2 separate regions of the Homo sapiens genome follow, and region 2 is linked to region 1. Evidence: fine-mapped expression QTL. A gene starts in region 1. The other region holds a variant in brackets. All regions are shown on one strand. Distances are between the middles of the regions. Region 1 holds the start of DENND2A (DENN domain containing 2A). Region 2 overlaps DENND2A (DENN domain containing 2A).

The links. PIP is the estimated chance that this variant, and not a neighbour inherited with it, causes the effect.
Region 2: its variant is fine-mapped to the expression of DENND2A in esophagus muscle (GTEx, PIP above 0.99).

Annotation. Positions count from the first base shown.
Region 1 is chr7:140,637,847-140,643,216 of GRCh38, forward strand. It overlaps DENND2A (DENN domain containing 2A), which reads right to left and starts at 2,967. Exons shown (of 20, transcript NM_015689.5): 1 at 2,658-2,967. It overlaps LOC105375535 (a long non-coding RNA gene), which reads left to right and starts at 3,063. Exons shown (of 6, transcript XR_928047.3): 1 at 3,063-3,428. RefSeq lists a silencer at 2,863-3,157.
Region 2 is chr7:140,529,822-140,535,191 of GRCh38, forward strand. All of the region lies in intron 14 of DENND2A (DENN domain containing 2A), which reads right to left. Among named protein-coding and RNA genes, the nearest start is that of MKRN1, 53 kb to the left of the region's middle. The variant G/A (reference allele first, on the strand shown) is at 2,622.

The DNA.
Region 1 (5,370 bases):
AGCACCCCGGACGCCTTGCTCTCTACATTCACAGAGATGGGTGTCAGCTCTTCCTGCACTTAAGGTACCATTGTCTCCTTTGTATAGGATTTCCCTGGCCCCATACTCTGAGATGACACCCAGTCCTCACAGAAGTGCAGTTCACTCCCCTAGACATAACAGGATGGTAGAGGAAGGCAGTAACGGGGAGTTTTATCTTTCCATCTTTTGTAACACCAGCAACGAAGATTTTTTTTTTCTATGTCACTCTTCAGTCTTTACATAAAGTTCCACATGATAAATTCCCAGCTGAGTTCAATTCCAGGAAAAATTTTGTTCTGAGAATTAATTTGTAGGCTTTCTGTTGTCCAAAATCCCAAACTATGCAACCCAGTGTATTTTTGTTTGTCCCTAAGCTGCCAGAAAACTTACAGCCAAATGCGTTATCCAAGTGTTGTAATCTGCTAAATGCAGGCCACTCAGAAGGTCCACATTCCTTTTGCTTTGCTTTGTTTTCTCCTGAGCATTTGTGTACATACTTGCTTTTAGTCTAAGTTATCATAATCTGTGCCCAAACCAGTCACCAGGTCCTGCCTCTTGATCCTGGCATCCTTTCAGTTTCTCCTGCTCCTCAGTAATTCTGGCCTGGGTGTTGCAAAAAGCCTTGGTCTCCTCCTCCTCCTCCAGGCCTCCCCACCCAACAACTAGAAGGAGCGCATCACTCCTGCTTCAGTGCATACTCCTGCCTCCTTCTGGCAGATCCTTCCTTCCCTGTGCCTCTGCCCTGACAGCTCCCGCCTCACCTCTCCCCGGCATGCACTCACATACTGCAACCCGCAGCCACACTGAATTCCCCTCACTGGCCTCTCCTAGACTCTCTTGGTGACTTTGCACATTCTGTTCTTTCAGCCTGAAACAACCTTCCCTGCTGTTTCCTTGGTGAGGCGGTTTTCAGGGCTTAGCCCAAGCATCACCTAATCTGTGGGGATTCCCTGCACCGGCTCCTCTCTGGGCTGCCCTAGTTCTATGCCATGCAGCCCTCACAGCCAGGCTGGGCAGGACTGGTTTTACTTTTTTGTTTGACTACCCAGCTAGGATGGTGTTCCTGGAAGGAAGGGGGACGTCTCATTCCTCGCTGTGCCACTGATGTCTAGCACGCATGCCTAGCACACAGAGCTGTGTAAGGGTATGAATAGAATACATGACACAGGATTTTATTAATCTTCCAGAATGAAAGGACTGGAGGCCAGGCACAGTGGCTCAAGCCTGTAATCCCAGCACTTTGCGAGGCCGAGGCGGGCAGATCACCTGGGGTCAGCAGTTCAAGACCAGCCTGGCCAACATGGTGAAACCCCGTCTCTACTAAAAATACAAAAATTAGCTGGGTGTGGTGGTGGGCGCCTGTAATCCCAGCTACTCGGGAAGCTGAGACAGGAGAATTGCTTGAACTCCGGGGGCTGAGGTTGCAGTGGGTCGAGATTGCACTACCGCACTCCAGCCAGGGTGACAGAGCAAGACTCTGTCTCAAAAAAATAAAAATAAAAAACAAACGAAAGGACTGGAGGCCAGCCTCCCGCCAGCCTTTTCATTACCAGGCCTCAGAAACCGTCTCTGACACACACACACACACACACTCGCACACTCACACATACTTCCTCTCGGAGTTCTGCTCCGTCCCACGCTGCCCACCCAGACTTTCTACTCCACTCTTTTGGTATCTGATATTTGATGATGTAAGGAGAAGGGATTTCTTTCTCTTCTTTTATGTGGTAACCACAGAGGGTTTAAGAGTTTACTAACAAGATTACTGTAGCACGCCTATTACAACTCTGTTACCCCCAGCCCATTACTGTCCGATGTCATTTGGAACCTTGGGGAAGTCACATTCCTGAATCGCATCTGAACAGCAGCTGGAAGTCAGCACCAGCTGGTTAAGGCAGGGTCACTGCACTTCCCTTGCCCAATTTACGCCCCTGGAGAGCCCTGACCAGTTTCCTGCTTCCTGTCCCAGGCCCCCCATGACAAGATTCCACGGCTGAGGTCTGGCTCTACTCCGTGGTCTCACCCAGCTCTCTGTGACCCTCCTAATACGATTGTGTCCAGACTTCCCCTGGGCTCCATCTGCTCCCAACTCCACCCTTGGGGACAAAGTGGAAGAAGTAAGACCATTCAATCATCTTTACCTTCTTGCTTTCCCAAGACTGCAAATGCTGACCGCTGTGAGGGGGGCCCGGCTGCTCAGCCGCCTCGATGCCCCGCGCTTGCACGCGCACGCACACACTCACACACACTCGCACAGACACACTCACACACAGACACACAAGCGCGCACACACACACACGCGCGCGCGCGGACACACACACACTCACACTCGCGCCCCGAGGGACCCAGCACGGCGCAGGGCGGGGGTCTACCGGCTTTCTGCAGGTCCCCGAGGCGCGAGACGGCGGCGTCCGGGCTCAGTCCTGGGAGTCAGCCCGAGCCCGGGAGGAACGCCTGGATCGCGCTCTGCACAGTCCCGGGACCAGGCGGGAACTCAGACTCCCGTCTGCAGAGCCGCTTCCCCCGTCAGGGCTCAGGCCGCGCGAGCCGTTTCCTCCCTCCCCCGCGCGTCCCCTCCTCCGTCCCCTTTCCCTCCCCAGCTCGACCCTGCACCCCCTGGCCCGGCCCGGCCCTACCTCCCCGCGGGCGGCGGCTCCGCGGGCTCTGGGGCGCATCTTGGGGGCTCCGGGGCGGGCCGGGACGGCTGGCGGCGCGGCTCGGGGGCGGGCGGCGGCGGGTGCCGGGGACGCCATGGCCCTCCGCCCTCCGCCCCTTTGTCCGCCGAGCCTCCCCCGGCCGCCCGCAAGCCCCTGGGGGTCCCCGCCGCGCGCGCTCCCGTGGGGTCCCCGCCGCCCCCGGCCCCAGCGGCGCGCTTCCCTCGGCCGGCCCAGCGCAGGCTCGCCCGCGGCCCCTGCCTCCTCCTGCCGTGGCTCCGCGACGATCTGCGCGACGCGCGCCCCCTCCTCCCGACCCATCCCGCCCGGCCCAGTGAGCTAATCCGCAGCTGGCGGGCGCCCGGCCGGTTGCCACGGCAACCCCTCTCCCAGGGCCCGGCCCCGCGCGGAGCTGCGGTAAACAGGACCTTCTGCCGGACTCGCCCCCTCGCCTCTCGGGGTGGGGGAGAGGTGGCTTAACCCTTCCTGGGAGGACGCCCGCCGCGCGCGGGCTCCATTCCACCCAGGCCCGGGCGGATTCGCGAGGTGCTTCCGGCCTGAGGCTTAGACCTGGACGTCCAAGCCTGGGGAACGGCGGCCGCGTGCCCGGCCCCGCTTACTCTAGGCAGTTAACACACTCTCGGCACCGGGCCGGGGCCGGGGGCACCTCGGGCAGTGAGTCAGGCACCACCCTTGCCCCAGGCAGCTTGCCGTCGGGCCGGGGTAATGACAGTCATGAGACCGGCGATGCAGGTGATGGGGGCCGGGGAGGGCCCAGGGCCGAGCGCGCTGCAGAAGGGCTCCCAGACCGGGCGGGAAGGGAGGTGGTCAGGAAAAGCTTCCAAGAGGAGAAGTGACTTCATAGACCCGCTGCCCCCACTCACGCAGGACACCGTCAAGGAACACAGGCTGCACAGCAGAAGTCCGCAGGGAAATGCCGTGGGCTGCGGGGAAGGCGGGTCTGGAATACAGGCTGGGGCCTTCGAGGAAGTTCCCTGGAGCTTTGACCGGGCCGGGAACATTGAATAGCATTTGCATAGGTGGAGGAAAGTGGGTGAAAGGAAAGGGTTCTGAGTGAAGGGAACAGCACCAGTGGAGGCCGGAAGCAGAGGCTAGGCATTTCAGAAACAGCCGAGTGAGGACCAAGTGGTGAATCAGGTCTGATGGGTAGGCTTAGCCAGATTTCAAGCGGGGGACGGAAAGTTTTTGAGCAGAGGAATGCCCTGATGAGAGTGAGGGGGGTCTGGCGGGGTGATTTGCGCGCGGTGGGAGCAGGCTTCAGGTCCATCTCCACACCAGAGGAAGGTCATCCTCATCTTTAGCTCAGAAGGGCTGGGAGCCATGGTCCTGCGGGACAGCAAAGAGGCCTAAAGTTCAAGCAAGGGGGAAGAGAGAAGAGAGGCTTAGCCTCACAAATCCACAGAAGGAGTGTGCGCGCGAGAGAAAGGCAGGAGGGAGACAGTGAAAAATAAAAGATGGGTGTAATGACGTAATACTGCCCAGGCAGTGCCTATAGACTGGGAGCTTGAGATTTGAGGGACTTGTTCAAAGTCACAGGAAAAAAATCTCTGTTTTCTTCTCAGCTGAGGGTTTTATGCTTTCTGGGAACTCTTTGAAGCTTTTCTAGGGCTTAAGTTCCTTAAACTCCTCATGACATACCCATTTTAACTAAGCATAGTCAACTTTTAGAGCCCACATTTGCAAAGTGCAAGCTTTTTTTTTAAAGTGTAAGCATTTAAATTATTGTTTTGTTTGTTGAAGCATTATTCAGTAAGTTTTTCACTTTCTAAATAAAGATCAGAGGCTTGGCTTTTTTTTTTTTTTTTTTTTGAGACGGAGTCTCGCTCTGTCGCCCAGGCTGGAGTGCAGTGGAGCGATTTCGGCTCACTGCAAGCTCCGCCTCCTGGGTTCACGCCATTCACCTGCCTCAGCCTCCCAGGCTTGGCTTCTTTTTTATTGATTGATTGATTGAGGCAGTCTCAGTCTCTCACCCGCGGTGGAGTGCAGTGTTGCTATCATAGCTCACTTCAGCCTCGAACTCCTGGGCTCAAGCAATTTCCCCACCTCAGCCTCCCAATTAGCTAGGACTACAGATGTATGCTATCATGGTCGGCTTTTTTATTTTTTGTAGGTCTTGCTATGTTGCCCAGGCTAATCTTGAACTCCTGGCCTCAAGTGATCCTCCTGACTTGGCCTCCCAAAGTGTTGGGATTATAGATGTGAGCCACCACGCCTGGCCAAGACTTGGCTTCTTGAGGGTTAATTATTCCCAGGGCTGCTACAACATATAAGAAAGCAAACTGGTGCAATCTTGGCTTGCAACCTTTGCCTCCTGGGTTCAAGCGATTCTTTTGCCTAAGCCTCCTGAGTAGCTGGGATTACAGGCGCCTGCCACCGCGCCACGCTCGGCTAATTTTTTTGTATTTTTAGTAGTGACAGGGTTTCACCATCTTGGCCAGGCTAGTCTTAAAAACTCCTGACCTCATGATCCACCCGCCTTGGCCTCCCAAAGTGCTCGGATTACAGGTGTGAGCCACCGCACCTGGCCTAATTTTTTTTTTTTTTTTTTTTTGAGACAGATTCTCACTCTGTCACCTAGGCTGGAGTACAGTGGCATGGTCTTGGGTCACTGAAGCCTCAGCCTCCTGAGTTTGAGTGATTCTCCTGCCTCAGCCTCCCATGTAGCTGGGATTAC
Region 2 (5,370 bases), 110 kb before region 1:
TTAGGAGATATACCCAATGTAAATGACGAGTTAATGGGTGCAGCACACCAACATGGCACATGTATACGTATGTAACAGACCTGCACGCTGTGCACATGTACCCTAAAACTTAAAAGTATAATAAAACAAAACAAAACAACAACAACAACAAGATATATGTGTGTATTAAAATATTATGTTCCAGTTGAGCCCAAGAGATTGAGACCAACCTGGGCAACATGGTGGGGCCCTGTTTCTCAAAAAAAAAAAAAAAATAGCCTTTGGTGGTGACATGTGCCTGTGGTCCCAGCTACTCAGGAAGCTGAAGTGTGAAGATTACTTGAACCTGGAAGGTTGAGGCTGCAGTGAGCCGTGATCGTGTCACTGCACTCCAGCATGGATGACAGAGGGAGACCCTGTCTCAACAACAACAAAATCATCATTGTTGTACATGATAAATATATGCCATCTTTATATGACAATTAAAAATAATTAAAATTAAAAAATATATGTACACATAGCCTTCTTTTCCATTCCCCAATTTGGGGGCCCCTGGACTAATAATGGTACTATTGAATCTTGTTCATTTATCCCACTGTCTCTTAACCTTCCTGTTCTCTGTCTTTGCAAATAATCGTTCTCCTGATACTCACTGGAGTCAGGAAATAGCAGCATGGCATCCATGCATCGCACTGATATTCGGTCCTTATCTTTTCTTTCAAATGATCACCCCCAAGATGAGAAAAACGCTACCCCAAGATTTCATTCTTATCCCTACACTGTCTTCTTTATTAGCTGGGTAAGAGTAACACATTGCATTTGGAAGATACCAAGAAAAAAAAAAGAGTGAGAGAATAATGAAGTTAGGACTTATATTAAGGAGAATACTATCCAGAATCCAGCCAGAGCTTAGGGTGAAGTGACTTCTGTGTCTTTCTTTTTTTTTTTGAGACAGAATTTCACTCTGTCTCCCAGGCTGGAGTACAGTGGCATGATCTCAGCTCACTGCAACCTCCACCTCCCGTGTTCAAGTGATTCTCCTGCCTCAGCCTCCAGTGTAGCTGAGATTAACAGGCATGCGCCACCATGCCTGGCTAATTTTTGTATTTTTGGTAGACACAGGGTTTCACCACGTTGGTCAGGCTGGTCTCGAACTCCTGACCTCAGGTGATCTGTTCACCTTGGCCTCCCAAAGTGCTGGGATTACAGGCGTGAGCCACCACATCCGGCCGACTTCTATGACTTTCGAAGGATCTAGATCTACATCTTCTGTCAAAGCAGAGATACCTTTCCCTAAGGCATCACTTCCTCTCAAATATTCAAGAATGTTAATGCTTTAGTTAATTCCTCACCATTTATGTTTTAGTTCCTTGATCTATAAACCACTGAATGTACTGAATTCACTTTGTTCTAAATTGTTTATTTTTTTATTTTAGGACTAATCTATGTTGATGCGTGGAGCCAGGCTACAAAGTTGCTATGCTCGTGTGCTATGGTTGTAAAGTCAGGACTTAGAAAATCAGAACATTCACATACAAGTGAGGATAGTTGTTTCTAGAGCAAGATTTTTCAGACTATAGTTTGCAGCCCATTAGTGGGTCTTGAAATCATTTTAGAGGGTTGCGATCAGCATTAAAAACAAGAACAAAAAGAACAGAATAGAAAATAAGAGAGTGTGCTGCACGTTTCCCAGCTGTAAATAACTATCTGTGTGTGAGCCGGGTGCGGTGGCTCGTGCCTGTAATCCTAGCACTTTGGGAGGCTGAGGCGGGTGGATCACCTGAGGTCAGGAGTTCAAGGCTATACTGACCAACATGGAGAAACCCCGTCTCTACTAAAAATACAAAAAATACAAAAACAAAAAACGAGTCGGGCATGGTGGCGTGTGCCTGTAATCCCAGCTACTCAGGAGGCTGAGGCAGGAGAATCGCTTGAACCCAGGAGACGGAGGTTGCAGTGAGCCGAGAATACGCCATTGCACCCCAGGCTGGGCAACAAACGCGAAACTCTGTCTCAAAGGAAAACAACAACAACAACAACAACAAAACAACTATCTGTGTGTGTGGTGGGGGCGGGTGGGAAGGCATACCCTGGGTCTGATTGTAAGATGTGCTTCTCATTGTGGGCTGCAATGAAAAGGGCTTGAAGCCAGTGATTTGGACTAGAAGACTGGGAGTGGGTGCTGGGCACGGTGGCTCACTCCTGCAATCCCAGCACTTTGGGAAGCTGAGGCAGGTAGATCACCTGAGGTCAGGAGTTCGAGATCAGCCTGGCCAACATGGTGAAACCCTGTCTCTACTGAAAATACAAAAAAATTAGCCAGATGTGGTGGCGGGTGCCTGTAGTCCCAGCTACTCGGGAGGGAGGCTGAGGCAGGAGAATCGCTTGAATCCGAGAGGCAGAAGTTGTTGTGAGTCAAGATCACGCTGCTGCACTCCAGTCTGGGCAACAGAGTGAGACTCCGTCTCAAAAAAATAAAAGAGACCTTAAGAAGGAAATCCCTGCATGAAGGTATTTTGCATGAAACCAGTCTCTTTTTATAGCACGTTTGCCAAAGTGCCTAAATGTGACTTGGAAACGAAGTGGTTCATGAGAAGATCCATGGTCCATTTCCCTAGTCTTTGAAACTCTGACTTTAGTCC[G/A]TTAAAGGAGAAGAAAAAATGCAGTATTTGTGTTTAAGATTCCTTCTACGCGTCAGACTTGTGGTTCAAGCACTTTTGACTTCACAGTTACAGAATGACAGAATTTAGACCTGGAAGAGTTCTTGGGGATTGAGTTCAGTTTCTTTTGGATTTTTAAGGTAGGAAGAGTGAGGCTAAATGAGGCTAAAGTAACTCTGAATGTAGGATGGGGCAGAGTAGGGAGAGAAGGGTCCTGCAGACTGGAGAAGGCAGGATTGCTGCTCAGAGGAATGCAGGCATGAGGAGGCACCCTACGATCCAGGCACAGTGGCATGTGCCTGTAGTCCCAGCTACTGAATCCCAGAGGCTGAGGTGGGAGGATCTCTTGATCTCTGGAGTTCAAGTCCAGCCTGGGCAACATAGTTAGATCCTCATCTCTAAAACAAAAAATTAAATGTATATAAAAAGGAGGATAGCCTATGTGTGTTTTTTTTCCCAATCATTGCAATAGAAAAACAAAACAAAAACATGTTTAACTTTTTTTCCCAACTCAAAGAAAAGGCTACCTGCTTTTTTTTTTTTTTTTTTTGAGACAGTGTCTCACTCTGTTGCCAGGCTGGAGTGCGGTGGCACGATCTCTGCCCATTGCAACCTCTGCCTCCCAGGTTCAAGCAATTCTTCTGCCTCAGCCTCCCAAGCAGCTGGGACTACAGGTGTGCACCACCATGCCTGGCTAATTTTTTGTATTTTTGGTAGAGACGGGATTTCACCATGTTGGCCAGGATGGTCTCGATTTCTTGACCTCATGATCCACCCGATTCAGCCTCCCAAAGTGCTGGGATTACAGGCGTGAGCCACTGCACCTGGCTGGCTACCTCCATTTTTACTTCCTTGTGGTCTCATTCCTAGAAGGAGGAAGTACAAGGGGCTGCTCCCTTCTCCTTGCTGTACAGCCCCTTGGGGCTCCTTGCTGTACAGCCCTTTGTGACTCCTAAAGCCCTATGTTGCCTTCAGTGACAGAGAGGCCCCCAGGGCCTGGGACACCCGGAGGCCCTGGTTCAGCTGCAGTGAGTGTGAACCATCTGGAGGAGAAGGTCGTGGGAGCAAGGTCAGGAAAGATGACCAGCAATGCCGGTGCTAGATGCAGAGGCTGGTGGAGAAACGTGACAGAAAGGAAGCCAAAGTTCACTCAGTGAACTGGATGCATGGGGCTCCAGGACAGCAGTGTTCAGGCTTGATGCGAGAAATGATGACGACTCGGCTGGGGAACCAGCTGGCCGCGTGGGAGGAGCTGCCCGTTTGTTGACTATCTCCTGTGGTAAGTTTGTTTTGAGTAGTCTGATCCCACTGTTGTGGCTGCAACAAACGTTTCTGTACCTGGTTATCATGAATACCTCGTTAGCTGGAGCCCATGGAGCACAGGGTGCTGGAGACAATACGGCAACAAGCAGGCAGGTGAAGGGTCTTATTCCTCTTGCTCTGTAGCCCTCGTCAACGTTTTTTCTTTTTTTAGATGGAGTCTCACTCTGTCGCCCAGACTGGAGTGCAGTGGCACGATCTTGGCTCATTGCAACCTCCACCTCCTGGGTTCAAGCGATTCTCCTGCCTCAGTCTCCCAAGTAGCTGGGATCACAGGCACGTGCCACCAATGCCTGGTTAATTTTTTTTTTTTTTTTTTTTTGAGATGGAGTCTTGCTCTGGCACCCAGGCTGGAGTGCAATGGTGCGATCTTGGCTCACTGCAACCTCTGCCTCCAGGGTTCAAGTGATTCTCCTGCCTCAGCCTCCCGAGTTGCTGGGATTACAGGCACGTGCCACCACGCCCAGCTAATTTTTGTATTCTTAGTAGAGACGGGGTTTCACCATGTTGGCCTGGCTTATCTCTAACTCTTGACCTCATGATCTGCCCACCTTGGCCTCCCAAAGTGCTGGGATTACAGGCATGAGCCACCACGCCCAGCCCACATCAATGTTCTAAAAACAATTCTGCCCCTAAACACTAAAAGGAAAGGTCAAATTTTGTGAATAATTCCATGAGTGGCAGCCCTTTCCTCAAAATAAATGATAGAGCAGGAAAGGATTATTTTGGATGGAGCTTGTTTCTCTCAATCCCTGATGCAAGTGGTAATAAAATTTTATTCCCTGACTTGTGAAGGCCCGAGGAGCCCTCAAGGAGGGGGATGGGAGGTGGGCACTCCTGGGACTGGTGGTCCCTTAGGAACATGCCAATAGTCAGTGGTTCTGGGGATGCTAGGGATGACTGGTCAAGAGGGCTTGCTGCAGAGTGTGGAGGTGGAGGGGCTAGAGAAGAGGCAGTGTTTTTGAAGGAAGACATAGAAAGAGAGTCCTCACTCGCAGCTGGCTTGCATTACAGTGGTGTGGAGGAAAGAAACGCCAGCACTCACAGCTGTGATCAATTGTACAAAAGTGGGGCAGGGAAGAGAAGGCCCCAGTGGGAGGTTGGCTGGGCCTCAGGGTTAAAAGTTGGGCATGGGTGAGAAGGGTTGGGTCCAAGGATGTTTTGCTGTTGGGTGGTGGTTCCTGAGTGTTGGAGCAGTATTCCAGAACATCAGGACGCACTTGTAAGGAATGCCAAAGTTTTCCTGGAGCCAACTTTTTAGTTCTGGTTGCTACCAAGCCTCTGCTCCATACTTGGTGTTCCTATGCTCAGCTGGCTTCCAACTCTCTATGAAGCAGTAAGGATCCAGCACAGAGCTTCCTCTAAGATGCTACCAGAAAAGTAAATGAAGAGTTTCCCGAATTAGAGGAAC